Linked DNA regions of Homo sapiens. The protein of the gene in region 2 binds, or shares a complex with, the protein of the main gene of each other region. Each region holds a gene or a part of one and is shown on either strand. Other genes may lie near its edges.

Evidence for each region.
Region 1: the proteins of RLIM (region 2) and UBE2D2 are in contact, whole or in part, in a crystal structure (PDB 6W7Z), measured with the Homo sapiens proteins. Residues at the interface, in NP_057204.2 of Homo sapiens: Ser571, Val572, Ile574, His595, Cys596, Arg599, Trp600, Glu603, Pro608, Ile609, Arg611; in NP_003330.1 of Homo sapiens: Met1, Arg5, Lys8, Glu9, Asp59, Pro61, Phe62, Lys63, Ile88, Gln92, Trp93, Ser94, Pro95, Ala96, Leu97, Thr98.
Region 3: the proteins of RLIM (region 2) and UBE2E2 are in contact, whole or in part, in a crystal structure (PDB 6W9A), measured with the Homo sapiens proteins. Residues at the interface, in NP_057204.2 of Homo sapiens: Ser571, Val572, Cys573, Ile574, Thr575, Cys596, Arg599, Trp600, Pro608, Ile609, Arg611; in NP_001357154.1 of Homo sapiens: Lys52, Thr55, Lys58, Arg59, Lys62, Pro112, Asp113, Pro115, Phe116, Ile142, Asn146, Trp147, Ser148, Pro149, Ala150, Leu151, Thr152.

The regions. Positions count from the first base shown.
Region 1 is NC_000005.10:139,563,085-139,572,658, forward strand, and holds part of UBE2D2 (ubiquitin-conjugating enzyme E2 D2), read left to right. Parts: intron 1-9,574.
Region 2 is NC_000023.11:74,609,873-74,620,417, forward strand, and holds the start of RLIM (E3 ubiquitin-protein ligase RLIM), read right to left. Parts: upstream 4,753-10,545; 5' UTR 4,550-4,752; intron 2,772-4,549; exon of another isoform or gene 2,710-2,771; intron 1-2,709. UniProt on the Homo sapiens protein: E3 ubiquitin-protein ligase.
Region 3 is NC_000003.12:23,583,210-23,592,783, forward strand, and holds the end of UBE2E2 (ubiquitin-conjugating enzyme E2 E2), read left to right. Parts: intron 1-6,524; coding exon 6,525-6,622; 3' UTR 6,623-8,585; downstream 8,586-9,574.

The DNA.
Region 1 (9,574 bases), on a different chromosome or scaffold from region 2:
TACCTGTAGCTACTTAGAAGTAGGTACTGGGGTTATCCATTCTGAATGATGGGATGGGGATGCAAGAGGAAGAGAACCAGTTTTTAGCTTGTCTTAAACTAAGTCAGAATACAGATTGATGATTTAAACACCTCAGCTCAGCGGTTGGTCCTCATTTCATTTTTGCTCAAAGACAGTGTGGAATCAGTCCCATTGGTTACTATAATTAGGTTAGCTCCTTAACTTCTTTTGACTCTGATTTCTAACAAATGAAGAAGGGCAGATTTTAGACAATAAATCTTGTACTAAAATGAAATGGTATTTGTTAAATACCATAAAGAAGCTTGAACCTTAAGCAAAGATGTCTTAAAGAACCGTTTAAGGGGCAGGGGAGCACACTGAGGAGTAGTCATCCAAAAAAAATATATACATATGTATTTTAAAGGCTTTTAGGAATTGCTAGGTCCTTATAGAATCTAACTGGGAAGTTATCAAATACCTGTAGAAGCTTGTCCTCTTATTTTATAACCTGAGAAAGAGCAAGTGGGTATAATGTGTAATAATTTACAGATAAAGAAATGTAGACCTGCCGGGCGCGGTGGCTCACGCCTGTAATCCCAGCACTTTGGGAGGCTGAGGTGGGTGGATCACGAGATCAGGAGATCGAGGCCATCCTGGCTAACACGGTGAAACCCCGTCTCTGCTAAAATATACAAAAAAAACTAGCCGGGCTTGGTGGCGGGTTCCTGTAGTCCCAGCTACTCTGGAGGCTGAGGCAGGAGAATGACGTGAACCGGGGAGGCGGAGCTTGCAGTGAGCCGAGATCGCGCCACTGCACTCCAGCCTGGGCCACAGGCGAGACTCCCTTTCAAAAAAAAAAGAAATGTAGACTTTAATCTCTACATTGAATTATATGTGTAACGGACTTTTTCAGAGAGGGAACTATCTCTTTGACACAAAACATACGTTTTAATTAATAATACTTGCTCTGGTAATATAGTTTCTTATGAGTTGCTACATATTTTCTAGAATAGATTTTCCTTAAAATATGCCTTTGTAAGATTTTTTTAATAAAATCAAGTTTAGAAATAATTTGAACTTTTTTGGGGGATAGAGTTTCAGTCTTGTCGCCCAGGCTGGAATGCAATGGCACGATCTCAGCTCACCGCAACCTCCACCTCCTGGGTTCAAGTGATTTTTCTGCTTCAGCCTCCCGAGTAGCTGGGATTACAGGCACGCACCACCACACCTGTCTAATTTTTGTGTTTTTAGTAGAAACGGGGTTTCACCATGTTGGCCAGGCTGATTTCTAGTTCCTGACCTCCGGTGATCCACCTGCCTCAGCCTCCCAAAGTGTTGGGATTATAGGCGTGAGCTACCGTGCCCGGCCTGAACTTTTTTTTTTTTGGAGACGGAGTCTCCCTCTGTCGCCCAGGCTGGAGTGCAGTGGTGCTATCCTGGCTCACTGCAACTTCCGCTTCCTGGGTTCAAGCGATTCTCCTGCCTCAGCCTCCGGAGTAGCTGGGATTACAGGCACTCCGCCGCCATGCCCAGCTAATTTTTGTATTTTTAGTAGAGACGGGATTTCACCATGTTGGCCAGGCTGGTCTTGAACTCCTGACCTCAAGTGTTCTGCCACCTTGGCCTCCCAAAGTGCTGGGATTGCAGATGTGAGCCACGTCATCTGGCCTGGCCTGAACTTTTAGAATTCAATATTAACCATTTTCCCCTAGTTTATTCCCTAGAGCTCTTCACAAAGTATGGCTTGACTTCTCTGAGACAGCTAGTGATAAGAAAAATGAAGTTTATTTTGGTATACCACTCAAAAAGATTGTGAAAACAAAATGGAGATTAATTTTTTTTTTCCAAACTCTTTGTACCACAATTTTAAGTTGAATAGCTGACTTCCTAGGCATGGATAAGATCAGTTCTATCTTATCTTCTGTCCTAGTAATGTGTCTGCAGTGGAATCCCCATTGCTTGGCTTCTATAATTGATCTTGAACCTTCCCAATTATCATTCCCTGAAAAAATAATTCTACTTAAATACCTTCTTGACTTAAATGTCATGAGTTGCTACATCTGGGTTCTGATAAGATTTTTCTAAGAAAAACTACATTTGACATGTGACATCTTCAGGAATTCAATATCTTGTTTCTTTGACAGAGGGACGCTATTCATGTCTGTGAATTTGGCAGTCTTTGAAATGCCATGTCTTTTTTGGAAAAAGCTTTTGATGGACTTTATTTTGATATACATCTTAAGGTCCCCTGACCTATACTATAAGCAGAGCATAGCAAAGAGGGTCATTATGAACATTGTGTGTAGTTCTGGGCAGGGCTTGGGATCCTTTGGGATTGTTGGTATCTACACCACATGGCCCCACCCTGCTATGTTTTAAGGTTTTCTGCTGACTTTTTAGGTCTTCAGCCTTGATTTTGATGCTTTGAGTGCCTGCCTCTAGCAGCACCACCCCCAGCCCTTTTCCAGTTGGCTGCATCTCATCTGTTGTGGGCTAAGAAACCAGATCACAGAGCTTATTAAAATTGTGTCTAAAATAAGATCCAGTAGGCTCTTGACTGAAGAGGGCTTCATGTGCTCTGTGAACTGTGTGGTTTCCTTGGCTGATCGGAGACCTTTCTGACTTGCTTCCTGTTTTTCTTCTTTACTTTTGCTATACAGATGTAGGAGGCTTTTTGGTGCTCTTAGAGTGCTGTAATGTTGAAGTATTTGGTTAATTTCTCTATTCTTGGGAAGGGTAAAAGGCTAAATAAATATCTTGATTCTTTGAGGAGTTGAAGACTGACCAGAGTTGGATACTAAAAGCTTTTCTTAACAGTAATAGTGCATTGTACATTTTAATGGTGTCCTACTAGTTGCAGATAACGTTTGGCATACATAGCTTTCAAACAAAGTAATGCCAGGATTATCACTTGATCTATTTCTGTGATAGAGATTTTTTTTCTTTCTTTTTTTTTTTTTTTGAGGCAGTCTTGCTCAGGCTGGAGTGCAGTGTCATGATCTTGGCTCACTACAAACTCTGGCTCCCAGGGTCAAGCAGTTCTCTTGCCTCAGACTCCCAAGTAGCTGGGATTACAGGCACTCACCACCATGCCCAGCTAATTTTTGTATTTTTAATAGAGACAGGGTTTCTCCCTGTTGGCCAGGCTGGTCTTGAACTCCTGACGTCAGGAGATCCGTCCGTCTCGGCCTCCCAAAGTGTTGGGATTACAGGTGTAAGCCACTGTGCCCGGCCTATGGCTAGCTTCTTTTAAGGCGTCTCAAGACAAAGTTCTCAATGAAATAAAGATTTCAGGTCATGCACAGTGGGTCATGCACAGTGGGTCACGCCTGTAATCCCAGCACTTTGGGAGGCCCAGGTGGGCAGATCGCTTGAGCTCAGGAGTTCGAGACCAGCCTGAGCAACATGACGAAACATGGTCTTTACAAAAAATACAAAAAATTAGCTGGGTATGGTGGTGGATGGCTGTAGTCCCAGCTAGGTGGGAGGCTGAGGTGGGAGGATCTCGGGAGCCTGGGAGGTAGAGGCTGCAGTGAACCGTGATCAAGCCGCTACACTCCAGCCTATGCAACAGAGTGAGACCCTGTCTCAAACAAACAAACAAACAAAAAGATTTCAAACTCTGATGTCTATAAAAGCCAGGCAGGTACCAAAGTGAGCAGAGAGAACTTGAGGGAGCTAGAAAATGCATGTGCTATCAGATGAGGGCAACTGCTAACCAGCTCCCTGCAAATGTTGCTATTGCTAAAATCTGTGGGCCCAGTGTTGCAATATCTTCCATTCAAAAAAAAAAGAGAAGCCACAAATCCAGATTTTTTGGCAACCGATTCAACTTAAAAAAAAAAAGAACAACAAAATACGCATTTTTGGTCGACATCAGTTTAGTATGTGGATTAAAGTAACCAGGGATTGGGGTTCATTAAGTAATCAGGAGTGTAAAAAGATTAAGTCATTTAAACAATACTTTCTGTATTTTTAAAAGTTTGAAAGTAATGCTTTATGTAAGATTAAGTTTTCTTGTTTGTTTGTTTTTGAGATGGAGTCTTGCTCTGTCGCCCAGGCTGGAGTGCAGTGGCATGATCTCGGCTCACTGCAACCTCCGCCTCCCAGGTTCAAGCAATTCTCCTGCGTCAGCCTCCCGAGCAGCTGAGACTACAAGCTCGCACCACCACGCCCAGCTAATTTTTGTATTTTTGGTAGAGACGGGGTTTCACCATATTGGCCAGGCTGGTCTCGAACTCCTGACCTTGTGATCCACCTGCTTCGGCCTCCCAAAGTGCTGGGAATACAAGCATGAGACACCGTGCCCGGCCTTAAGTAGTTTTTAAATACAATTCTAATTAACTTGCTTTTTTTTTTTGAGACCTCAGGTGATTTGCCCGCCTTGGCCTCCCAGAGTGCTGGGATTACAGGGATGAGCCACTGCACCCAGCCAATTTGCTAAGTTTTTTTTTTTTTTTTTTTTTTGAGATAGAGTCTCGCTCTGTTGCCCAGGCTGGAGTGCAGTGGCACAATCTCGGCTCACTGCAAGCTCTGCCTCCTGGGTTCACGCCATTCTCCTGCCTCAGTCTCCCGAGTAGCTGGGACTACAGGCATGCACCCCCATGCCCAGCTACTTTTTGTATTTTCAGTAGAGACGGGGTTTCACCATGTTGGCCAAGCTGGTCTCAAACTCCTGACCTCCAGTGATCCACCCGCCTCGACCTCCCAAAGTGCTGGGATTACAGGCGTGAGCCACTGTGCCCCGCCTTTTGTATGGTTTTGTGTGAGGTCTTGGGAAAACCAGTTTTGTAAATACATTGATCCCGTAGAAGTTTATGTATTACTCTTCCATTATGATCTGTTTCATGTTTTGAGTTTCTCTGTAGACTGACAATACACTTTGAAAATGTCTGAGATTGGGAAGTTACCGAAGCATGATCTTAAAGAAAGTAGTTGTAACGCTGAACAGTACTGTATTTTAAAAAATTGCTTAGGCTGGGTGCGGTGGCTTATGCCTGTAATCCCCCAGTACTTTGGGAGGCTGAGGCGGGCCGACCACCTGAGGTCAGGAGTTCGAGACCAGCCTGCCCAATATGGTGAAACCCTGTCTCTACTAAAAATACAAAAATTAGCCAGGTGTGGTGGCACTCACCTGTAATCCCAGCTACTCAGGAGGCTGAGGCAGGAGAGTTGCTTGAACCTGGGAGGCAGAGGTTGCAGTGAGCCAAGATCTCGCCACTGCACTCCAGCCTTTGCAACAGCGAGACTCCATCTCAAAAAAAAAAAAATTGCTTAAAAATACTGTAGGCCGGGCTGGGCGCTGTGGCTCATGCCTGTAATCCCAGCACTTTGGGAGGCCAAGACAGGTGGATCACAAGGTCAGGAAATCGAGACCATCCTGGCTAACACGGTGAAACCCCATCTCTACTAAAAATACAAAAAATTAGTCAGTGTGGTGGCAGGTGCCTGTAGTCCCAGCTATTCGGGAGACTGAGGCAGGAGAATGGCGTGAACCGGGAGGCAGAGCTTGCAGTAAGTGGAGATCGCGCCGCTGCATTCTAGCCTGGGCGACAGAGCGAAACTCTGTCTAGAAAAAGAAAAAAATGAAAATAAAAAATACTGTAGGCCGGGCGCGGTGACTCACGCCTGTAATCCCAGCATTTTGGGATGCCGAGGTGAGTGGATCACGAGGTCAGGAGTTCAATACCAGCCTAGTCAAGATGGTGAAACCCTGTCTCTACTAAAAATATAAAAATTAGCCGGGCATGGTGGTGAGCACCTGTGATCCCAGTTACTGGGGAGGCTAAGGCAGAGAGTTGCTTGAACCCGGGAGGTGGAGGTTGTGGTGAGCTGAGATCGCACCACTGCAGTCCAGCTTGGGCAACAGAGCAAGACTCCGTCTCAAAAAAGAAAAAAAAATACTGTACTAGAGGTGTGGTACCATATATTAGATTAATATTAGAGGTAAGGACTGATTGAATTCCTATCAAAATGATGAATTAACAGGTAGTCCTGTGGAGTATTGGGAACTTTAATAAATGGTTGTCTGAATATGGCTATTTAAATTAGTTCTATCTTGGATAGTTCTATCTTGGATACCTTCTTACTCCAAAAGGTGAGCTTCTTCACATAAGTTCTGGGAATTTTTTTTTCCCCACTAAAAAAGTATTTTTTATTTCCTTTACAAAAGATCATTGAATTAAGGCACTTTCTTTGGCTCTACTAGATTGTTATTTAAATATAATTCAAACAGCCATCGAGGATAACTGTTAATAAATCTAGGTTTTCTCTGAAGTCTCCCAGTGTATATTACTGTACTGATGACTGACAAGGAAGAGGTTTTGACAAGGTCCAATTCTGTATATTTCTCTTAAAATATCCTAGGCAGTTCCCAGGATAGGAGTATCTGACTCATGCCTCATGCTACCAGGAACCTTTGCAGCCTCATCCCAGAAATGCAGAAACACACTTGTTTTGTCTGTAGAAATAAAGTTTTGATGGTTAGATTTCCAGGCAAACCTTCAAAATCATGTTAAACTATAATATAGGGAAATAAAGTAGTGTTTGTTCTTCTGTCTGCAGAGTCAAGTGAGATTTTGGGTAATAGAATCATAAAATGTTAGCACTGCAGCACATCTCAGGGCTGCTGTCTGGAAAGGCCGTGTGACCTACCAGGTAAGAGTAGGTCTGAATTGAGAACCTGGATTTCTGGACTGTCCAGTGTATTTTCTGGCAAGCCATGTGTTATCCTTACATAGCTGTTAGGTATATAAATCCAGAGGATGCAGCCTTTTTTCTTTTGTTCAAACAATTGGATATTTAAACTGTGTCCTGGAACCTGAAGATCTTCCTCAACTTCCCTTTATATGATTGGCAAGGTTGCTCATACTGCTTGAAACTGCAAATTTAGGCTTGACACAGTGGCTCATGCCTGTAATCCCAACACTGGGAGGCCAAGGTGGGAGGATTGCTTGTACCTAGGAGTTCAAGACCAGCTTGGTCTGTAATGGGAGACCCTGTCTCTACAAAAGCGAAACAAAGTGAAACAAAATTAGCTGGGCATGGTGATGTGTGCCTGTAGTCCTAGCTACTCAGGAGGCTGAGACAGGAGGATCACTTGAGCCTGGATGAAAGGTTAAGGCTACGGTGAGCTGTGATCATACCACTGCACTCCAGCCTGGGCAGCAGAGCCAGATTCTGTGTCAAAACAACAACAACAACAACAAAACAACTATTGCAAATTTGGTGTTCTATTCTCACCACCACCACCACCCCGCCTTTTTTTCCCCCGAAACGGAGTCTCTACCTCTGTCGCCCAGGCTGAAGTGCAGTTGTGCAATCTCGGCTCACCGCAACCTCTGCCTCCCAGGTTCAAGAGATTCTCCTGCCTCAGCCTCCCAAGTTGCTGGGACCACAGGTGCATGCCACCACGCCCGGCTAATTTTTGTTTTTTGTTTTTATTTGAGATGGAGTCTAGCTCTGACGCCCAGGCTGGAGTGCAGTTGTGTGATCTCGGCTCACTGCAACCTCTGCCTCCTGAGTTCAAGCAATTCTCCAGCTTCAGCCTCCAGAGTAGCTGAGACTACAGGCGCGTGCCATGATGCCCAGCTAATTTTTTGTATTTTTAGTAGAGATGGGGTCTCACTATGTTAGCCAGGATGGTCTCGATCTCCTGACCTCGTGATCCACCCACCTCGGCTGGTTTGGAACTCCTGACCTCAAGTGATCCACCTGCCTTGGCCTCCCAAAGTGTTGGGATTACAGGCATGAGCCACCACCCCCGGCTTTCTGCATATATCTTTCATCAGAGTCAAATGGATTTTGTTTTTTAAGTGAAAGCAAGTTTATTAGGAAAGTAAAGGAATAAAGAATGGCTACTCCCTAGGCAGAGCAGCCTCAAATGGGTTTTTAATCTCTAAAAAGACTAAAAACCACTGTCCTTCCACCTTAAACATTATTTTAATCTCAGCAGATGAACAGAGTACCTGTTCTGCAGAGAAAATATAAATCTTACGTGTGAGTTGTTAGGGATTTCCTTCAAGGTATTAAAACAACAGATCGGCTGGGCGCGGTGGCTCATGCCTGTAATCCCAGCACTTTGGGAGGCCGAGGCGGGTGGATCGTGAGGTCAGGAGATCGAGACCATCCTGGCCAACATGGTGAAACCCCATCTCTACTAAAAATACAAAAATTAGCCAGGCACAGTGGTGGGCACCTGTAATCCCAGCTACTTGGGAGGCTGAGGCAGGAGAATCACTTGAACCCAAGAGGCGGAGGTTGCAGTGTGCCGAGGTCGTGCCACTGTACTCTAGTCTGGGCGACAGAGCAAGACTCCCTCTCAAAAAAAAAAAAAAAAACAAACACAGATTTCAGCTATCCACTTTAGAGTACTCACTGTGCATCAGGAATTACTTGATCTTTTCAATAATCTTTCAATAATTCTGTTCTCCCCAGGTTAGATAAGGAAACAGTGGGAGAAATAAACTTGCCTAACATTATATGGTTATGGTAGGAAGAACTAGGATTCAGATACAGGCGATCTTGACTGTAGAGCTATTGTGTCTCCAGATTTACTTGTTTTAGTCATAGCCCTTCTCCCCTCTAATCTCTAGAGAAGCTTTACTTTTCCCTTTGCCAAACTTAACTTTTGCTTTCCATCCTTTTCTCTCTCTCTCTTTCCCTCTTTCCTTCCTTCTCTCCCTCCCTCCCTCACTTCCTCCTTCCCTCACTCACTTCCTCCCTCCTTCCTTCCTTTTTCCTTTTCTTGTTTTTGCTCTCCGGTAATTGTCTTTGTTTTCATACTTCCAATCTCTTCTCCACTAACTCCTCTTAGCATCCAAACTTATCGAAGGTTTTCCCCTATAAAAAAAAAAAAAGCAGTAAAATAACTTTTTAAACTTCCCTCTTCCATAAGAGCTACTTCCTTCCTCATCTTTATCCTTCCCATCTCTGACATTTCAGTCCCAGAATTCTTGAAAGAATAGTCTATTCACTGTTCTGGAACTATTTAGTAAGGTCACTAATGATTACTTAATTGCCACATTCAGTGGATACCTAAGTTTTTATTTAACTTTCGTAATAGTTGACATGATTTTCATTCAGTTCCTTTGGCTTCTGATAAACTGCTTTCTTCTTCCTCATATCTGGTGTTTCCCAACTTTATTAGAATGCTTATCAAAGTAGTATTGTTGATGGAGTACAAGCCAAAGTGTATGAAATCATGCATACTTGTATTAAAATTGAGAGCACTGGCTGGATATGGTGGCTCATGCCTGTAATCCCAGCACTTTGGGAAGCCAAGGCAGGAGGATCACTTGAGCTCAGGAGTTCAATACCAGCCTGTGCAATATAGCAAGACCCTGTGTCTACAAAAAATTAAATTAGCTAGGTGCAGTGGCATGTGCCTGTAATCCCTGCTACTCAAAAGGCCAAGACAGGAGGATCGCTTGAGCCCAGGAGTTTAAGGCTGCAGTGAGCTGTGATCATGCCAGTGCACTCCAGCTTGGGCCACAGAGCGAGATCTGTCTCTTAAAAAAAAAAATTGACAGCACAAATTACCTCAGATAAATTAATTATTATTCTTTTTTTTTTT
Region 2 (10,545 bases):
AGGGACCTTTTGTCATTCCAGAAAAAAATTTTAAACATCAAACACAAATACTTCCTTTCTCCCAGGAAGTAACATGTTCATCATCATGGAAACGCCATTAGACTCTCAAATGTTATAAAAGCAAACCAACCTGTAGTTGCAAAATTATTGCAAGAAATCCACCAATCTATGTAATGCACCAAGTGCTCTCTGCCTACAGATTATTTGTCTCACAGATATGTAGGTGCTACTGTGACTAATGAAATTAAACTCTTGGATTGGTGGCCAGGCGCGGTGGCTCAGGCCTGTAATCCCTGTACTTTGGGAGGCCAAGGCGGGCGGATCACCTGAGGTCAGGGGTTCAAGACCAGCTTGGCCAACATGGTGAAACTCCATCTCTAGTAAAAATACAAAAGTTAGCCAGGCGTGGTGGCACGTGCCTGTAATCCCAGCTACTCGGGAGGCTGAGGCAGGAGAACCGCTTGAACCCAGGAGGCGGAGGTTGCAGTGAGCCAAGATCGTGCCACCGCACTCCAGCCTGGGCGACAGAGCAAAACTCGTCCTGCCCTCCTAACCAAAAAACAAACAAACAAACAAACAAACAAACAAAAAAAACCAAAAAAAAAAAACCCTTGTGTTGGAACATTAAAATATAAGAAAATCTAGAGCAAAAATACCAACTATATATGTCAGGAGAAAAACCACAAGTTCATAAATATATTCCCCCAATTGAGGTATATTTAAAAAATACCTCAATTGGCCAGTCGCGGTGGCTCACGTCTGTAATCCCAGCACTTTGGGAGGCCAAGGTGGGCAGATCACAAGGTCAGGAGTTCGAGACCAGCCTGGCCAATATGGTGAAACCCCATCTTTACTAAAAATACAAAAATTAGCCAGGCGTGGTGGAGAGCGCCTGTACTCCCAGCTACTTGGGAGGCTGAGGTAAGAGAATTGCTTGAAACCAGGAGGTGGAGGTTGCAGTGAGCCGAGAGTGCACCACTGCATTCCAGCCTGGGCGACAGAGTGAGACTCCGTCTCAAAAAAATAAAAAAATAAAAAATAAATAAATAAAAATACCTCAATTGATAAAAAGAGAAATGAATTGCTGGATTATCTGGGAAACTTTCATGTTTGAGGCTGAGAAAAAAAAATGAAAGAAAAATAGATACAGAAGTGTTATTACTTTCTTATATTGGACATCAGAACTTCAATTTATTATGTAAACTAGATACTTTCTGAAATCAATGGGCCATAGGTTTTAGAAATCTTTGTGTTAAAGAAAAACCTGTCCAGTTCTAGGCAGTGGCACAAAATTCTAGGCCCTCATTGGTTTGGGTTTGACAGAAGACTTTTTATTCTCTAATTTGTCATCCACTCTATGGTAAATGAAGAGAACAGGAGGCTGGCTGGTGATTTGCTCTATTTCTAATCCACCATGGCCATGGAAAAATTAATGTACATATAATATAATTCCATAAATGCAGATGCCTCATTTGACCTACTACTATATTAAGGCTCACTACATGTTCACTAACCTCAAAGATATCCAACCAGCCTAGTATTTCCAGATCATTTAATTATTAAGCTATTTCTTAAAATCATTTCTGATTTTAAATTAAGTTTATCAAATGATATACAAGGAGCTATCCATTTAACATCTATCAATGAGCCCATCCAATTACAGGGCCTGTGAAATAGAACAATAAATATGTGTAAACATGCATAATAGCTGAAACAGGAACGTAACAGACGAAAAGGGGGGATTGCTGGATAACCTTTAAGTATTAACAAAAGTTTCTGATGCAACATAACCTACAGACTTTTTACTACAACCTTTCATTTTCATTGCATTTCCTATCTAATTAGACAGCAATCAAACCCAGAAGTATAACGTCAGACAGGCCTGGGATAAAATGAGGGCTCCACCACTTAAAGCTATTTAACTGAGGACAAATTATACTTAACCTCTTTGGGTTTTTGGTTTCCTCTATAAAAGTTAACATTCTCATGAGGCTCTGTTGTGAGAATTATAAAATAATGCATATAAAGCACATGGCCTAGCACCACAGGCCTTCAGCAGAAGTTGGTTATGAATTTAGGCTAAGTATCCATCCCAGTTTGTCGGGGACAATCAAGGTTTGCACCTGCTGTCCAGGAATTATTAATGTTCCTTTTGTTCTTAAAAGTGTCTTGGTTAGGCAATAAATTATGTGGTTACCCTAATGATGATGATAATAATAATGAAAGGAGTCAATATCAATTAAAAGTATCATGTATCAATTATGAATTTTTGAATCTTAAAGGAAAAAAATCAACCACCACACACAAAGTAACGTAAAATTATACTCTCGTAAGCTATTCTGATATTTCATTTAGTTATCCAATGAACATTTAAATGTTATTTTACTTATACTCATGCCATTCCAACAATGATATAAGACAACAAATTTTTTGTTGTTGTTGTTCTATACAGGTATTGGTAAACTTCAGACATTATTTTAAAGAGTCAAATTCACAGATAAAGCACTGGTGAGTTCCAGGTATCCAGAAACATTACCCTTTTAATTCCCAGTGAAAAGTACCCATTCTTATCATGAAGAATACCCAACACCATCTAACATCTATCAATGAGCCCATCCAATTACAGGGCCTGCAAAATAGAACAATAAATATTTGTAAACATGCATTCTACACATAAATCATCAGGAGACGCAACAAAAAATAAATTACCTGACTGTTATGACATAGTATTGAAATACAATAAACTGGATTTTAGTTTTCTTCACTCTGCTCTAGAAAAAAAAAGAATCCATTATTCTTCCTCTTTAAAAAGATACACATTTTCTTTGAATTAGACACAACCTAAAAAAAAAAATACAGACACACCATAACCCAACCTAATTCAATATTAGTATTAGGGCATTTGGGGAGAGCAAGAAGGTCAGAGGGGACCAGGAGTTAGATAAAAGATGTCTTCTAAGACTGAGAGACAATTTACGTTTTATTATAAGCTTGCTTAAAATAAGCCTTTCCTTATCAGACCAGTAATTATTTTCAGATTCTGATAGTCACTTTCAAGGACTTATCTGGCACATTACACTAGCCTAAGGTAGGAACTAAAGTATTAAAATTCATCAGAACATCATGGACTAAAAAAATCTTTGTAACATTTTTCAGTAAGTGGAGTGTGTCCTAAAATCAAGTTTTAAAAAGTGGATTGGTCTTTCTAGCTACCTAAGCTATATTTCTACAGTTTAGAAAAGTCATGGGGGGGGAGGGGTTATAATTGTGCCAGTCCTCCAGGGAAGATACAATGTACTTAATGGGGTGATAAGTAGTTACTCTGTCTATAATCACGAAGAATGAAAGAAATGATTAGTAGCAGTAGGTTTATTATTTCTTCCCCCTTTCAATCAGTCCAAAACACTGCGGTTAATTCTGATTCAGGAAATGCGGGCTCCTTACTTCTGGCAAAAAATCATTGTGGGGTCTTGCAAATGGAAGATGACAATCTGATACAACTGCTTCCTCTTGCCCCAAAATGAAAAAAAAAATGACCTCAATAACAAGACTGCTAGGCCTCAGATTCCCAGACTAACCTGTGGAATAAGTATGGTGAAACTGTCTAGGGAAGGAACGTGGCTGTCTCCTCCATCTTGAAATTAATCAGCATAAGGGAAAAAGGGACCGAGTATTCAGGAAGCAGAAGCCCAACCGGTTAATACTAGTTACTAAGCTATGGCATGCGTGGCAGGTACCGTCTGCAGAAGCAGAGACCCCCCTAGGCTTTTTTTTTTTTTTTTAATGGGGGAGGGATTGAGTTGTTGGTGGATTAAACACAAATTAACTTGAAAATTTGGCCCAATTCCATCCCTTATCCAGGAGAACACAACAAACACCTAACGGCTTTTCCCTCTCTTTTGCGGGGGGATCCTTCCAGTGATACCTGGCAAAGGATATGCCAGGGTTATTCGAGCAAGGGAGTAAACCACATTTGCCTCAGATCCTCAGGGAAGATGTCATCGCGGCCCCAGGGGGCGCCTAATTGGTAATACCCTGCAGAAGGGCTCAAAATGAGGTTTTGGAAATCTAAAGGCCCAAGAGTTGCCAGCATCTCACTTGGGGCAGCCTGATTTTTTACTTCCCTTTTCCCAAACCCAAGCCCGCCATGGAAAACGCGGGGAGGTCAGGGAAGCCTCCAGAGAACAGAGAAGAAAAAGCCTGAGACGTTCTAAGATTCTGACGCCTGAGGCCAAAACTCAAAAACTGCCTCCCCCGATTTCCTAAGGCTCCGGAGGGCCTGGGCTGCAGCTCGCGCGGCCACCGAGAGGAAGTACTACCCACCTCCTTCCCCTTCAAAGAGCCTGTCGACTATACCACTCAACTAAAATGGCAGCGGCGACTACGCCACGGAGCCCCCCGCAGCAACGGGCCTGGGGTCCGGAGGCGGCGCTGAGCCTCTGCCACGACGCGTCACTCGGGCCATTTTGAGAGAACGCGGCAGCCGCGGCTCCGCTGTCTTCCTCTCGCTCTACATCATTTCTCACAGGATTCCCAAGTCTTCACTTACTAGGTTTTAGGGTCAGGATCCGACTCGGTTGGTTCGGCCGCCGCCGCCGAGGCTGCTCCGCACCTCCCTGGCCGCCGCTCTCAAGCCCGCCTCCAATGAGTAGCTGGTTGAGACCCGCCTCTAGCCCAGCGCCTGCTCGGAGACGTTGCTCAGGCAGCCATTATCTTCCCCATTGTTACCAAGCAGCGACAGGAAACGACTGCCCACAACAGGAAGTGATGATGCCGCGTCCCGGCACCGCAGCCCCACTCCCAGCCTATTAGCCAATCCCAGTCGATTCCTCGAAAAGGCTCCGCGGGAGGAGGAGGGGGACGGCAGACGACGCGGCAAGGCGGGCGGCGGTTTGGAAAAGGAAAGCTGTTATGACGCCCACCATGTGACAGGCCCCACCCTCCTCCGCCATTTTGAATTGTGGCGAGAAATTTGCGTTCTGAGAATTGTGGGAACCTTCGCTTTCCCATTTTGAAAACTGAAGGACGTCACGGTCTGACTGCTTGAAGACATTTTCAGAGAGAGAGAAATGTGATATTAGTCTACCCTGACATCACATCAGTTCACACAATCCGTGCAGACCAGTTCAAAAAGTAGCCTGCGTTTTATTCAACATGTATTTACACAGTGCCAACTGCATGTCAAGCACCATTGTAGCTGCTTAGGAAATTAAAATAGACCAAAATTAAGAAAGAAAACAGGCCACGTTCGGTGGCTCACGCCTGTAATCCCAGCACTTTGGGAAGCCGAAGCGGGCGGATCACCTGAGGTCAGGAGTTCGAGACCAGCCTGGCCAACATGGTGAAACCCAGTCTCTACTAAAAATACGAAAATTAGCCGGGCGTGGTGGCGGGCGCCTGTAATCTCTGCTAATCGGGAGGCTGAGGCAGGAGAATAGCTGAACCCAGGAGGCGAAGATTGCAGTGAGCCGGGATCTCGCCACTGCACTCTAGCCTGGGTGACAGAGCAAGGCTGTGTCTCAAAAAAAAAAAAAAAAAAAAAAAGAAAACAGATCAAAATCCCAGTTCTCTTGAGTCTTTATAGGGGCCAGGGACAATAATTTAGAAAAAATCAAACATAAATACATATCATGTTAGTGATAAATGCCAAGGAGAAAAATCAAGGAAGGGGGACAGAAGAGTTCCTTGTAGGGACAAACGGATTCGTGATGTTTAAAAGACTGATAACTTTGAGGCATTAACTCTAAAGTATTCGAAAAAGGGCGGTGATTGTAAAAGGGTGGGAAAATCTGATAACGTTGGGATTTGTAAAAGGGCAGTTAAAGAAGGCCTTTCTTAGGTAGTAATGCCTGAAAGAATTGAGGGAACTCGCCACACAGCATGCCACTCCCATTGTCACAGTTAAAGGAAAACCTTACCCAAGTTTTTAGATTCTTTTCCTTTTCCCAATTTTTCTGTTTTCCAATAGCATGCCAGCTATGCTGGCTTTGTTACGGTTTTTCCAACAAAGCTAACTTCTTCCTACTTCAACTACTTTACCTTTGCTGGAATATTTTACTTTCATATCTTTGCTTTCATCATCCAAGCCTCGCAATTATTAACTTCCTAGAGAAGCCTTCCCTGACCACCCTACCTAAAATAACTTCTTCCTGAAGGCGGAAAAAGGTCTGAGGAAAAAAAAAAAAAGAAAAAAGTAATAACGACTTCTCCCATCTCCTTACCTGCTTACTTTTCTTGTAAAACACTTAATCTGAAAGTAAGTTATTTATTTGTTTGTTTACTTCACCCTTTCTGAGCAGTAAACCTCTCTGTTTTGTTCACTGTTGTGTCCCCAGCGACCACATAGTAAGCCCTCAAAATACTTTGGGAGAATTACCCCCTCACCATGATGGATGTTATATCAGCCTGGAATATAAGTATTTCACTCCAAGCAGTTAAAACAATATCCCTCATACTTACCTGCCCAACTCCCTAGAAGACTCATTGATATTGTCATTTTTGGCAGAGGGATACATGATTTAGGCGCTGTGTCTCTACTCAGGTTTTTGTCTTATTTTACATAATCATGTACTAGAACGATTACCTAGAACGTGTAAAAGGAATTCTTCAGTAGCCTGCAATTGCCATTAAGCCTGATATTCTGATTATGGCAATAACATTAGCCACTCCTTAACGTATTCTTGAGGCTTATGTGGCTTAATCTAAAATATAAAATCATAAAAGAAGTGGAAGAAAATACAGGTTACTATTTCTGTCCTTTCTTCCTTCCTTCCTTCCTTCCTTCCTTCCTTCCTTCCTTCCTTCCTTCCTTCTTTCTTTCTTTTTTTTTTTTGATGGAGTCTTGCTTTGTTGCCCAGGCTGGAGTCCAGTGGCATGATCTCAGCTCACTGCAACCTCCGTCTCCTGGGTTCAAGCGATTCTCCTACCTCAGCCTCCCCAGTAGCTGGGATTGCAGGCATGCACCACCACGCCTGGCTAATTTTTGTATTTTTAGTAGAGATGAGGTTTCACCATGTTGGGCAGCCTGGTCTCCAACTCCTGACTTCATGATCCGCCTGCCTGGGCCTCCCAAAGTGTTGGGATTACAGGCGTGAGCCACTGTCCAGGCCTAGGTTAATATTTCTATAGCCTTGGGGATGCAGAAGCACTTTTGAAATACAACACAAAATCCATAATGGGAAAGACTAATAAGTACAACTTCATAAATAAAAGTAAACCTTCTAAATGTCAAAATACAAGGTTGGTAAAGTTAAAAGACAAATGATAAATTGAAAAAAATCATTTCATAATGACATATTAGAGCCAAGGGGTAATATCTTTACTTAATAAAAAGACGAAACACTAGCAAAAATGTTACATATGTGATAAACACATATGGCTAATATCAGCCTATAAAGAGTTGTTAAACATTGATTTTTAAAAAGATAAATACCGGCCGGGCGCAGGGGCTCACACCTGTAATCCCAGCACTTTGGGAGGCCAAGGCAGGCGGATCACAAGGTCAGGAGATCAAGACCAGCCTGGCCAATATGGTGAAACCCCGTCTCTACTAAAAAAAATACAAAAATTAGCTGGGCGTGGTGGCGTACTCACTCCTGTAGTCCCAGCTACTTGGGAGGCTGAGGAAAAGGAATTGATTGAACCCGGGAGGCAGAGGTTGGAGTGAGCCGAGATCATGCCACTGCACTCCAGCCTGGGTAACAGCAAGACTGCATCTCAAAAAAAAAAAAAAAAAAAAAAGAGATAAATACCTCCATTTCAAAATGTGCAAGGAACATGAATGGATAATTCATAAAAGGATAAAACACGTGGCTGATAAGCATATGACAATATATTCTTTTTTTCTTGTTAGTAAATAACCTTGTACTTGAAAATATATTCAGCCTCACTAGTAATTAATCAAAAATAAAAACAATGAGGTACAACTATTATGTATCCATAATAATTAAAAAACAATAGCTGGGTTCGGTGGCTCACGCCTGTAATCCCAGCACTTTGGGAGGCTGAGGCGGGTGGATTGCCTGAGGTCAGGAGTTTGAGACCAGCCTGGCCAACATGGTGAAACCCCGTATCTACTAAAACTTCAGAAAAAAAATTAGTTGGGCGTGGTGGTGGGCACCTATAATCCCAGCTACTCGGGAGGCTGAGGCAGGAGAATCGCTTGAACCGGGAGGCAGAGGTTGCAGTGAGCCGAGATTGCGACATTGCACTCCAGCCTGGGCAACAAGAGTGAAACTCTGTCTCAAAAAAACAAAACAGAAAAATTTTATGAACTAAAAAATTTTTTAAAAAGTTCCTTTTTTTGCCTGTTAGAATGTCAAGGATAAAAAATCGATAATATTAATTGTTGATGAAGATCCTATGAAATGGGCACATTTGTATTGCCAGTGGGACAAATTGATATCAGTTTTCTTTTTTTTTTTTTTTTTGAGACAGAGTCTCACTCTGTCACCAGGCTGGAGTGCAGTGGCGCAATGTCGGCTCACCGCAACCTCCACCTCCTGGGTGCAAGCAATTCTCCTGCCTCAGCCCCCCGAGTAGCTGGGATTACAGGCGTGCGCCACCACACCCAGCTAATTTTTGTAGTTTTATTAGAGACGGATTTTCGCCATGTTGGATAGGATGGTCTCGATCTCTTGACCTTGTGATCCGCCCACCTCAGCCTCCCAAAGTGCTGGGATTACAGGCATGAGCCACCACTCCCAGTTTTCTTAAGGCAATTTGGTAATGTGTTTCAAAAGACTCATATTCATAGTATTTGACAAACATGTCCAGGTACAGAAATTTATTTTAAGGAAAGAAGTGGACAAATTTGCAAATATGTATGTAATGAATGTGCAAAGATGCTAATTACAGTGTGGTTTATAACATCGAAATATTGACAAATCAGAAAAAATAACCATCCAACAACAATTAGTTATAGTATAACCACATAATAGACTACCATGTAGCATTAAAAATAAGTACCTAGAGCTGGAAATACGTTCAGGTTACTTTTTTTTTTTTTTTTTTTGAGACGGAGTCTCACTCTGTCACCCAGGCTGGAGTGCAGTGGCACAATCTCGGCTAACTGCAACCTCCACCTCCTGGTTTCAAGCGATTCTCCTGCCTCAGCCTCCTGAGTAGCTGGGACTACAGGCTCGTGCCACCACGCCCAGCTAATTTTTGTATTTTGAGTAGAGACGAGGTTTCACCATGTTGGCCTGGCTGGTCTCCAGCTTTTGACCTCGAGTGATCCACCCACCTCTGCCTCCCAAAGTGCTGGGATTCCAGGCATGAGCCACCGTGTCCGGCCTCAGGTTACGTTTTTAATGAAAAAAGCGATTTACAATACAGCTTGTGTGACTCCATTTTTATTTAAAAGATATGTATAAATATGCCTAGAAAAAAGCCTAGATGAGCATACATTTTTAGTCACTTTTATGTTCTTTTTTTTTTTTTTTTTGAGATGGAGTCTCACTCTGTCACCCAGGCTGGAGGGCAGTGGCATGATCTCGACTCACTGCAACCTCTGCCTCCCGGGTTCAAGCGATTCTCATGCCTCAGCCTCCTGAGTAGCTGGGATTACAGGCGCCCGCCACCATGCCCGACTAATTTTTGTATTTTTAGTAGAGATGGGGGTTTCACCATGTTGGCCAGGCTGGTCTTGAACTCCTGACCTCAGGTGATCCACCTGCTTCGGCCTCCCAAAGTGCTGGGATTACAGGCATAAGCCACCGCTCAGGGACCATTTTTATGTTCTTTACCCCTTTCAGTATTGTCTTCAACATTTTACAATGTGCATTATTACTTGGTATTGGAAAGGGGTAGAACCTTTTTTATTTTGAAAGAAAAATCTGCCTGAATTTGAAGACTACATATCTCCCTTACCACTTATTCTTTCCATGCTTCAAATATACTTTCTTTCTTTTCCTTTTCCACATATTCATTCGTGTTCTTTTATAAGCATGGAGCTACTTTACTTACAATATCAAGGAAAGTACTTCTCAAAACAATTTATCTCATGGTAGCATTCAGTGCCACTCTAGAACCTACCAAAGCAACTACTAAACACTTGTTTGGTTTCTATTTAGCCTAATTGCATTTCCCTCCCATGTTGTTTGGTTGGTTTGTTTGTTTGTTTTGAGACGGAGTCTCGCTCTGTCGCCCAGGCTGAGGTGCAATGGTGCAATCTGAGCTAACTGCAACTGTGCTTCCCAGGTTCAAGCGATTCTCCTGCCTCAGCCTCCTGAGTAGCTGGGATTACAGGCACCCACCACTCCTGGATAATTTTTGTGTTTTTAGTAGATGCGGGGTTTCGCCATGTTGGCCAGGCTGGTCTCCAATTCCTGACCTCAGGTGATCGGCCCGCCTCGACCTCCCAAATTGTTGGGATTACAGGTGTGAGCCACAGCACCTAACCCCATATTCTTTTTATGTATGTGTGACCTTCAAATGATTTTTACCCATTCTTGGTCAAGTGTCCCTTAACAGGAAAAAAAGAAAAGATCTTCCCAATCTTCCTTCTGTTCATTTTAACAAAATGTATTGATAATCTGCTACCTT
Region 3 (9,574 bases), on a different chromosome or scaffold from region 2:
GTCAGCTTTGTCAAAGATCAGATGGTCGTAAATATGTGGCATTATTTCTGGGCTCTTTATTTTGTTCCACTAGTCTATGTGTCTGTTTTTGTACCAGTATCATGCTGTTTTGGTTACTATAGCCTTGTAGTATGCTTTGAAGTCAGGTCATGTGATGCTTCCACCTTTGTTCTTTTTGCTTAGCATTGCTTTGGCTATTCAGGCCCTTTTTTGGTTCCATATGAATTTTAAAATAGTTTTTTCTAGTTCTGTGAAGAATGTCATTGGTAGTTTGATAGAAATAGCGTTGCACCTGTAAATTGCTTTGGGCAGTATGGCCATTTTAACAAACTTCTTCCTTTCCATGAGCTTGGAATGTTTTTCCATTTGTTTGTGTCACCTCTGATTTCTTTGAGCAGTGATTTGTAATTCTCATTGTAAAGATCTTTCACCTCCCTGGTTAGCTGTATTTTATTTTCTTTGTGGCTATTGTGAATGGGATTGTGTTCTTGTTTTGGCTCTCAGCCTGTATGGTGTTGATGCATAGAAATGCTACTGATTTTTGTGCATTGATTTTGTATCCTGACACTTTGCTGAAGTTGTTTATCAGGTCAGGGAGCTTTGGGGCAGAGACAGTGGGGTTTTCTAGGTATAGAATCATATCGTCTACAAACAGGGATAGTTTGACTTCCTCCCTTCCTATTCGAATGCATTTTATTTCTTTCTCTTGCCTGATTGCTCTGGCTAAGAATTCCAGTGTAATATTGACTAGGAGTAGTGAGAGAGGGCATCCTTGATTTGTTCTGGATTTCAAAAGGGGTATGCTTCTAATGTTTGCTCATTTAGTATGATGTTGGCTGTGGGTTTTTCATAGAGGGCTCTTATTATTTTGAAGTATGTTCCTTCAGTGCCTAGTTTGTTGAGGGTTTTTAACATGATGATATGTTGAATTTTAAAAGCCTTTTCTGCATCTGTTGAGATGATCACGTGGTTTTTTGTTTGCGTTGTTTATGCAATGAATCACATTTGTTGATTTGCATGTGTTGAACCAACCTTGCATCCCAAAGTTAAAGTCTACTTGATCATGGTGGATTTGCTTTTTTGTATGCTGCTGGATTTGGTTTGCTAGTATTTTGTTGAGGATTTTTGCATCTACATCCATCGATCCCTTTTAGTCTTGTTCCCTGTCTCTGTCCTCCCTTTTCTAGGTGGGACTATAAACCCTTTGGCTTCCAGGGTACCCAGTGTAGCTCCATCCATTAAAGAGGCAAGGTGGGAGTTGTCTGAGCCTTTTTCCTCTAGAATCAAAGGTGCACATACCACAGATCTCAAAAAATGCGAAGAGGTAGATTACGCAATATGACAATCTTTTTTTTTTTTTCTGGAAAGACGGTCTCGCTCTTTCGCCCAGCTGGAGTACAGTGGCGCAATCATGGCTCACTGTAATCACGACCCCCTGGGCTCCAGTGAACCTCCTACCTCAGCCTCCCAAGAAGCTGGGACCACAGGTACATGCCACCACACCCAGCTGTTTTTTGTTTTTTTTTTTTTTTTTTTTTTTTTGTAGAGATGGGTTCTCACTGTGTTGCCCAGGCTTGGTCTCAAACTCCTCGGCTCAGGCCATCCTCCTGCCTCAACCTCCCAAAGTGCTGAGATTACAGGCATGAGCCGCTGTGCCCAGTTGGTATGACAGTCTTTCACTCGCTTGCAAATAATAGTGATTGTTAGTTGACAGGTATGTACTCTTTGCTTCTAAATTGTGTAGGGAGACAGAGGTGAGATAGAGGAAGTAGAGGTGAGTAAGAAGAAGGTATGTTCCCCTTCATCAGTGATCTTGCAGTCTTACGCTTTCATTCAGGTTATTATTTTATGACTGGTATTTTGTTAACAAAAATGCCATGATGCTGGCTTGGAGCAGCGGCTCATCCTGTAATCGCACCACTTTTGGAGGCCAAGGTGGGAGGACACTTGAAGCTAGGAATTTAAGACCAGCCTGGGCAACATCTGCCGTCTCTACCAAAAAAAATAAATCAATAAACTGGACATGCTACTGTGTGCCTGTAGTCCCAGCTACTCAAGAAGTTGAGGCAGGAGGATTGCTTGAGCCCAGGGGTCAAGGCTGCAGTGAGCTATGATCCCACCACTGCACTCCAGCCAGGGCAACAGAGTGAGACCCTGTCTCAAAAAAAAAAAAAAAAAAAGACATGATTTTTATTAAACAGATGAGGAAATGTGATTTAGAGGAAAGCTTTGTATACCTAACTTCCATCTCTATGATATTCTGTTAACCACACTGTAGATCCTATACTTCTGCCTCAGGAAACCTCTAATACATGCCGTACTGGTGTTTGGGAGAATTAAGTACTTGAAGTCATCTAACTCTGTTCTGCATAAGTCTGAACATGCTCCTCTTTTCAAAAGTGTAAATAATTTTTGAACAAAAACAGAAAATGTGGGAGGCTTTGATTTCAATTTACTTATCTACTGATAAATTTTGTGGCTTTTCTTTAGTAAAAATGAGGAAAACTGACAGATGATAATCTCAAATATTAATAAAGATTTGGGAAAATAGTAACAATCTAGAAACCCAAAATGATGGGAAATATTTTCTTCTTGTTAGAGAAATAGGGTACAGTAATTTATGTTTGGAGCCTGGCTTGGATGGCAGAGTGAAACTGTCTCAACAAAAAAAAAAAATTATTTGGTTGATAACATGTTTTTTTTTTTTATTACCTTTTAGTGTTGCTAAATTCATGACTTTTATTTACCATTTATTAAGTTTAACATTCTGCTAAGAAACAGTATTTTCAGACTTTCACATTGAAAAGTCCTCCCTTAATTAAGCATATACAATTTACCATTTTCAGCAGAGATCCATTTTCACAACTAGCTCTTCAGGATTATTCCACTGAGCTGAATCTTTATGTGCAGCATATGAAAAAGTAGTTTGTAGCCTTTTTCTCCTTTCATGAAATATTAGCTTAAACATCAGCACTGCTACTGGGGGTAATATTCAGAAAATCATAGGGACATGTAAATTGATATGAGAAGATAGTTACTATGTTGAATAGAATTTTAAGTGAACATCAAATACTAATTGTTAGTGGTCTTTTTTATTTTTTTAGAAACAGAGTCTTGCTCTGTCACCCAGGCTGGAGTGTGGTGGCATGATCACAGCTCACTGTAGTCTTAAACTTCTGGGCTCAAGCGATCCTCCCACCTCAGCCTCTCAAGTAGGCTGGACTACAGGGGCACACCACCACACCTGGCTAATTTTTGTTATTTTTTTGTGGAGTTGGGGGTCTCAGTGTGTTGCCCAGGCTGGTCTTGAACTCCTGGCCTCAAGCTGTCCTCCACCCTCAGACTCCCAAAGTGCTGGGATTACAGACGTGAGCCATCTGACCCAGCCAATAACATGATTTTTTTAATTCCTTCATTGTGTATTTTTACTTTATCCCTTCATTTTATACTTTAAACAAATTTAAGATTTGTATAACTTCCAAAGATGCATGCATGGTAATGGTCCTCACATCGTTGTTTTTAAAACAAAAGTTGGAGAGTACCCAAACATCTAAAAACAGGAAATTCGTTCTTAATTCAGGTATTAGAAATGATGAAGTAGATCTACAATTATCTATGTAAAAAGTTATTTACCATATCGGTATAAAAATCATAGTTATTTTTTAAAAGATTACAAAAGCAGACTATAAATTAATCCCTTTTTTTTTTTTTACATCATGTGATTAGAAGTGTAGGAAGAAAACATACCACGATGTTAACAGCAGTTTTCTTTGCGTGGATTTATACACGAGATGGTCTTTACTTTCAACTTCCTGTCTTGCATATTGTCTGAGGTGGTTTTCTAAATTATTATTAATTACTGTTTTATAGTTAGTGTGTATAATTTTACAGGTGGAAAAAAAATTTTTTAATCAAATTTGAAAACGTAAAAGAACCTTGAAAGCAATTAAATGTTAAGCATGCAAAAAAAAGTTTGCACAACGCACGCTAATTGTTACCAGCACTCTAACTTGTTTTTAATTGTTTCTCCTTTTGCCTGTACTGAAATACTATTAACAGTTGATATGACACATTTTCCCACCCCACAGCTTCTTGTTCCCTTTATTCTTCATTTGTTTCCCTCCACCCCCTTTGAGCTGAAGTGGCAGACCTGTCTTATTCCCAGTGTGTACACTCTGGATGTGGGTACAGTTTGAGGTGGAACATATAAGTCAGTGTTATTCTTCTGACATTGAGCCTTACCTTCATCAGTAAGTTAGAATGGATCTTCAATGTGTTTCACTAATATAAGTTCTATTTAATTAAACACCTATCTTGAGTGATACAGACTTAAACTATTAAGGATGCCCACGTTTCACCCTACTCTTTGCATTCTAGAATGCCAGGAATCAGAACAAGATTACTTTTTTTGAAGGTAGAGAAATGTGACTCAGATTTCACTTTGGCCCCTATTACTCTAATGTCATTACTTAAGCTCAAGTGAAAGGCTACATTTTTAAAAAAGTATCCTGGCCAATTGCCAGATATTTTGTGTCTGTATTTGGTAGTGCTGGTTTAAATCTTGTTGAATCTTGACTGGACTGGGTGAAATGGTAGAGTTTTCATTTCAACATCTGAGAAAATGAAGAAGAATCACAAAGAGTAGGCAGAGAGGCAAACGTTTCGAACAAACCCACATACTAAGTAGTCTACTAATTGTGATATAAGTGAATGTAGGAAACTGGCTTCTCCCTGGAATAATTATTACGAGATTTACACAATTCCAGGAAAACTTAAGCAAGTCTTGTTGAGCAGGCTTTCAAAGGCTTTGTTATCATGAGCTTCAGCAGATAGGTTAAAAAGTGGTGTTTCTATTATACCTTTCATATTGAGAACATATGACCATGAGTGCCTTACAAGGTTAGTCTCAGGATCTTCCCAAGTTGCCGGTGGTGTTGGGCCACAGACGTAGTTCCATATTCTCTACTATTTTTTTCCTACCAAACATTAGCTTTTGATGATTTTTCTCATTTTCCCTAGTGGATCCTCCTTACCTGACTGCTCTAATATACCCAAATTCCCAATACCAAAAATAGGGGAAATATAAATCGGGGAAAGAGTGAAATTAGAGAATTGGAGGGAAAAGAGTAGAATCTGGGATCTTTAGGAACCTAAGTTACTTTTTTTTTAATTGCTTTGCTTTTTGTTTTTTTGTTTTTTTGTTTTTTTTTTTTTGTCTTTTTTTTTAAAGAGGGTCTCACTCTGTCACCCAGGCTGGTATGTGGTGGCACGATCATAGCTCACTACAGACTCAAACTCCTGGACTCAAGCGATCCTGCTGCCTCAGCCTCTTAAAGTGCTAATATTACAAGCATGAGCCACCGTGCCCCAATTTTTTTAATTAAACGTTGACCCAATCAATATTCTGGATAGAGAGCTATCTCCCAGCACCCTGTTAAGTTAAGCACCCTGTTAACTAACAGCACCCTGTTAGTTAAGAGGGTGAACTCTGGCTCCAAGCCCTGCTCCACCCCTTTCTCCACGTTGGGCAAGAGACTCAGCCTCCTTATGCTCCAATTTCCTCCTGTGTCAGCTCCTTAGAAATCCATGTCATTAACATATTAGAGTTTTAGGACATGGTTAGTCATGGTGAGTGTTAGCTATTATTAACATCTATTAGTATTTTTGTAATAATGAGCTATGTAGGTTGGATGTTACCAAATTTTGAGGAAGAAGTGGACCATCTCTCCCCTCTTTTGACTGTCCAGCTCAGACTCTGGCGTCTCCTCAGATAAGGTAATCTGGCAGGAGAATGCCACCTGCCTGTGGTGCTAGCCTAGGGTAAGGAGTTGTCCAGACCGCCAAACGTCTTCCCAGGAGAGCTCATCAAGAGCCCATGAGTCCCCTGCCCACAGCCCACCTGCATTTTCTCCGTGAAATATCTACTTGAAGACAGGCATCTCACACCTGTAATCCCAGCACTTTGGGAGGCTGAGGCAGGAGGATAACTTGAGCCCAGGAGTTTGAGACTATCCTGGACAACATAGTGAGACCCCCAAAATTACAAAAAAAAATTTGAAAATTAGCCAGGTGTTGTTGCACACACCTGTGGTCCCAGCTACTCAGGAGGCTGAGGCAGGAGGAGGATTGCTTGATCCCAGGAGGTCAAGGCTACACTGAGCTGTGATCATGCCACTGCACTCTAGCCTGAGTGACAGAGCAACACCCTGTCTCAAAAGAAAAAAAAAAAAACCAATACGAGGGGAGCAAGGTGAGAAGTATGTGGTGGGTACAGGGAAAGAGAATAAGACTTGTCAAGAAATATGACAAGAGCTATCAGTAAAATACAGATAGGTGACTCTTGGGGCAGCTGGTGTGAAATGTAGTCTGTCAGCAGCAGGTGACTGGCTCAGCCGCAGCAATGGTGGTCCAGGTTAGAACAGCAGCTTCTCATCTCCTACCCTCCCACTCCTTGCCAGCTTTCTGAACACTTCTTCCCCCACAGTGCTGGTATTTACTGACTCCCAACTCTGCTTTCCTTGCAGCTGACCCTCTGGTGGGCAGCATCGCCACACAGTACATGACCAACAGAGCAGAGCATGACCGGATGGCCAGACAGTGGACCAAGCGGTACGCCACATAGGGGCCTGCTGCCTGCCGCCCCGCGGGACCTGTGCAAGCACATTCACCAAGTGCATCGGTAGCCCTGCCCACCCCTCCAGACCTCGGTTCTTATTTTCCTATTTTTATTAAATTTGGAACCATTTTGTGATGGTATGTTGTCCATCTTCCCATCCCAGTTCTTCCTGCCCCCCTTCCTCTCTCCCACGCTCTCTTTTATCTCTCATTTTATTCCCTTGTTGATTTCTGTTAACTTGAAAGATTTGGGATTTTTTCCCACCTCATCATAGATGGGAACTTTTGTTTTCAGTGCAAACAATGTTGGAGCTGTAATAGTAAGAGCTTTCTTACAAAGCTTTGTATTACTGTGTGGTTTTGTTTTTTTTGTTGTTGTTTATTTGATTTTGATTTTTTTTTCTTTTATGTGATCTTTGGGAAAACACATTCAGAATTATATCTCGTTTCTACTTAAATGTAGTGCTTAGGGTTAATTTTTTGTACTGAAGTCTTTATTGGTGGGTGCATGCTACTGGGAACAAGTTTTTGTACAAAAGCTTCAATCAGAATCACTGTGCATTACTGAGACTCTGTTTATCACTAGCCTTCTGTCCCTCCCGCAGAAGACTGTTGGATTGAACAAAATAATATGTATTTTGATTTACTTAAAGTGCTTGTAAATTTCTTAGGGACCTGCCACTTTTGACTGTGGATCAGTTGATGTACACTTGTATTATTAAAGCACTCAATAAATCACTGTGGCTGATAACTGCACTTCTGGTAACCCGACATTTGCTTTGTGTCCTGGTGACCGCTGTAGCCCTACGTGCAGTGAGGCTTGTCTAATTCAATTACAGGTTCAAGTGTATTTTTCATCTCAAACCTCTAATATTTCTTTGGAGTTGAGTTGCTTAGCATGTGGAATTTCTCCAGCTGTCAGTAGCCTGATGATTTTATGGTTGTTATAGTAAATTGCTATCATTTTACATATTGACTGGGCATTCTTTCTGTTACAGCCTTCTTTATCAACAATTAAAATATGTAACTCCAAAAATAGCCTTCTTGTGAAAGTGAAGTCTGAGCTAATCATTGTGTTCAGCCACTTTCAACTTTATTTCTCTCAAAATTGTTACAGTGATTGCCCTCAAGCTTTGTATTGTTCATTTTTGTTGTTGTTGTTGTTGTTGTTGCTGCTCTTTTTTCTCCATGATTTTAGCAAAAGAAGTAAACTCAACTGTATTGGTCACGGTCAGCCCATTCAATGACAAGGGTGTCTGTCTGGCTTCACCTTCAGGCTATTTTAGTGTGCAGCTATAGGAGGCAGAGGAAACGTGGGTGGTGTAGTTTCTAAAACACGCTGACTTGCTGATTGATAATTCAGGGTTATTAGTGTAACAAAGCGTAGTGGAAACTCCTACTCCTGCTGCACCATACAGTTACAGACCCTACCATACTCTTGGTCTCATTTAAGGAACCATTAACACCTTCACTGCTGAAAAGCAGGATTTATAAGCATAAGTCATCCACCTCTAAATATTTTAACATTTAAAATGCCTGATTCAAAAGATACAGTTTTTGTTGTTTTTAACTAGTTAAAAATAAATCCTAAGAAAATATATTTAAATATTGCAAATGCCACTTCTAAACCAAAATACCTGAGAATATTTTTTGTCTTTTTAATAACGATTTTACCATTCATTTTATTTAAAAACATTTCTCAGCATAGCAGGGCACTGTATGGTCTCTGATGCACTACTCAACCCTCTAGTTGTAGTAGAGGGAGCCACAGACAGTACATAAATGCATTGGGCAGAGCTATATTCCAGTGAAACTTTATTTACCACCATAGGCATGGGATTTGGCCCATGGGTTGTAGTTTGCCAATCCCTGACACAGACCAACATAGACTGGGGGCTGGATGAAAAACAAATAACGATGTGTCATTTCTTTCTTTAACATAAAATAAATTCAATATGGTACAACACTGATTTTTGGAAAGTTGCTCAGAATGTTTAATTGCCTACAGTTTCTCACCACAAAGTTTTTTATTTTTACTTCAGATTTTAAAATTCAGCACTAAAGGCATTGAACCATTGAAAATAAAATTTTATTAAACTGCTTTTTTCCCCTACTTTTGGCTGATTAAACCAGACCCATAATACTAATACTTTAAAGACAATCTTTATAGGCAGTTTTTAAATTAAATTTTTTTTTTTTTGGTCTGTAGCAACAAGGTCTCACTGTGTTGCCCAGGCTGGTCTCAAACTCCTGGCCTCAAGTGATCCTCTCACCACAGCCTCCAAAACTGCTAGGATTATATAGGCTTGAGCCACTGTAGCCAGCCAACACACATTTTAAGTGATAAATATATTACATTGCACATTTCACATCTACTTGTACATCAGACCATTTAAAAATGTGTTATTAGGCCAGGCTTGGTGGCTCACACCTGTAATCCTAGCTTGGGACGCCGAGGTAGAGATTGCTTGAGCCCAGGATTTCGAGACCAGCCTAAGCAACATGACAAAACCCAGGCTCTACAAAAAAATACAAAAATGAGCTGGGCATGGTGGTGCACGCCTGTAGTCCCCGCCACTCGGGAGGCTTAGGTCAGAGGATCACCTGAACCCAGGAAGTCGAGGCTGCAGTGAGCCATAATTGCGCCAGTGCACCCCAGCCTGGGCAACAGAGCAAGACGCTGTCTCAAAAACAAAACAAAATTTGTGATATTTAGGAACCAAAGATTACAACAACTCTAGTAGGAATTCTAGTCACTGACCTGTTTGTTTTCCTGTGACCCATTTTTAGGTTTAATGCCCATCTGTGATATGAAGAGGCTGTAAAACTTCTCTCCCCAACTTTATGATTTATTCATACTTCATGACAAATGTACACAGCCCTCAAAATGTAAAAGCTAGAGAAACTCCAGAGAAACCAACAAACTTAGTAGAGCTGAAGTCTAGATTTCAAATAACAT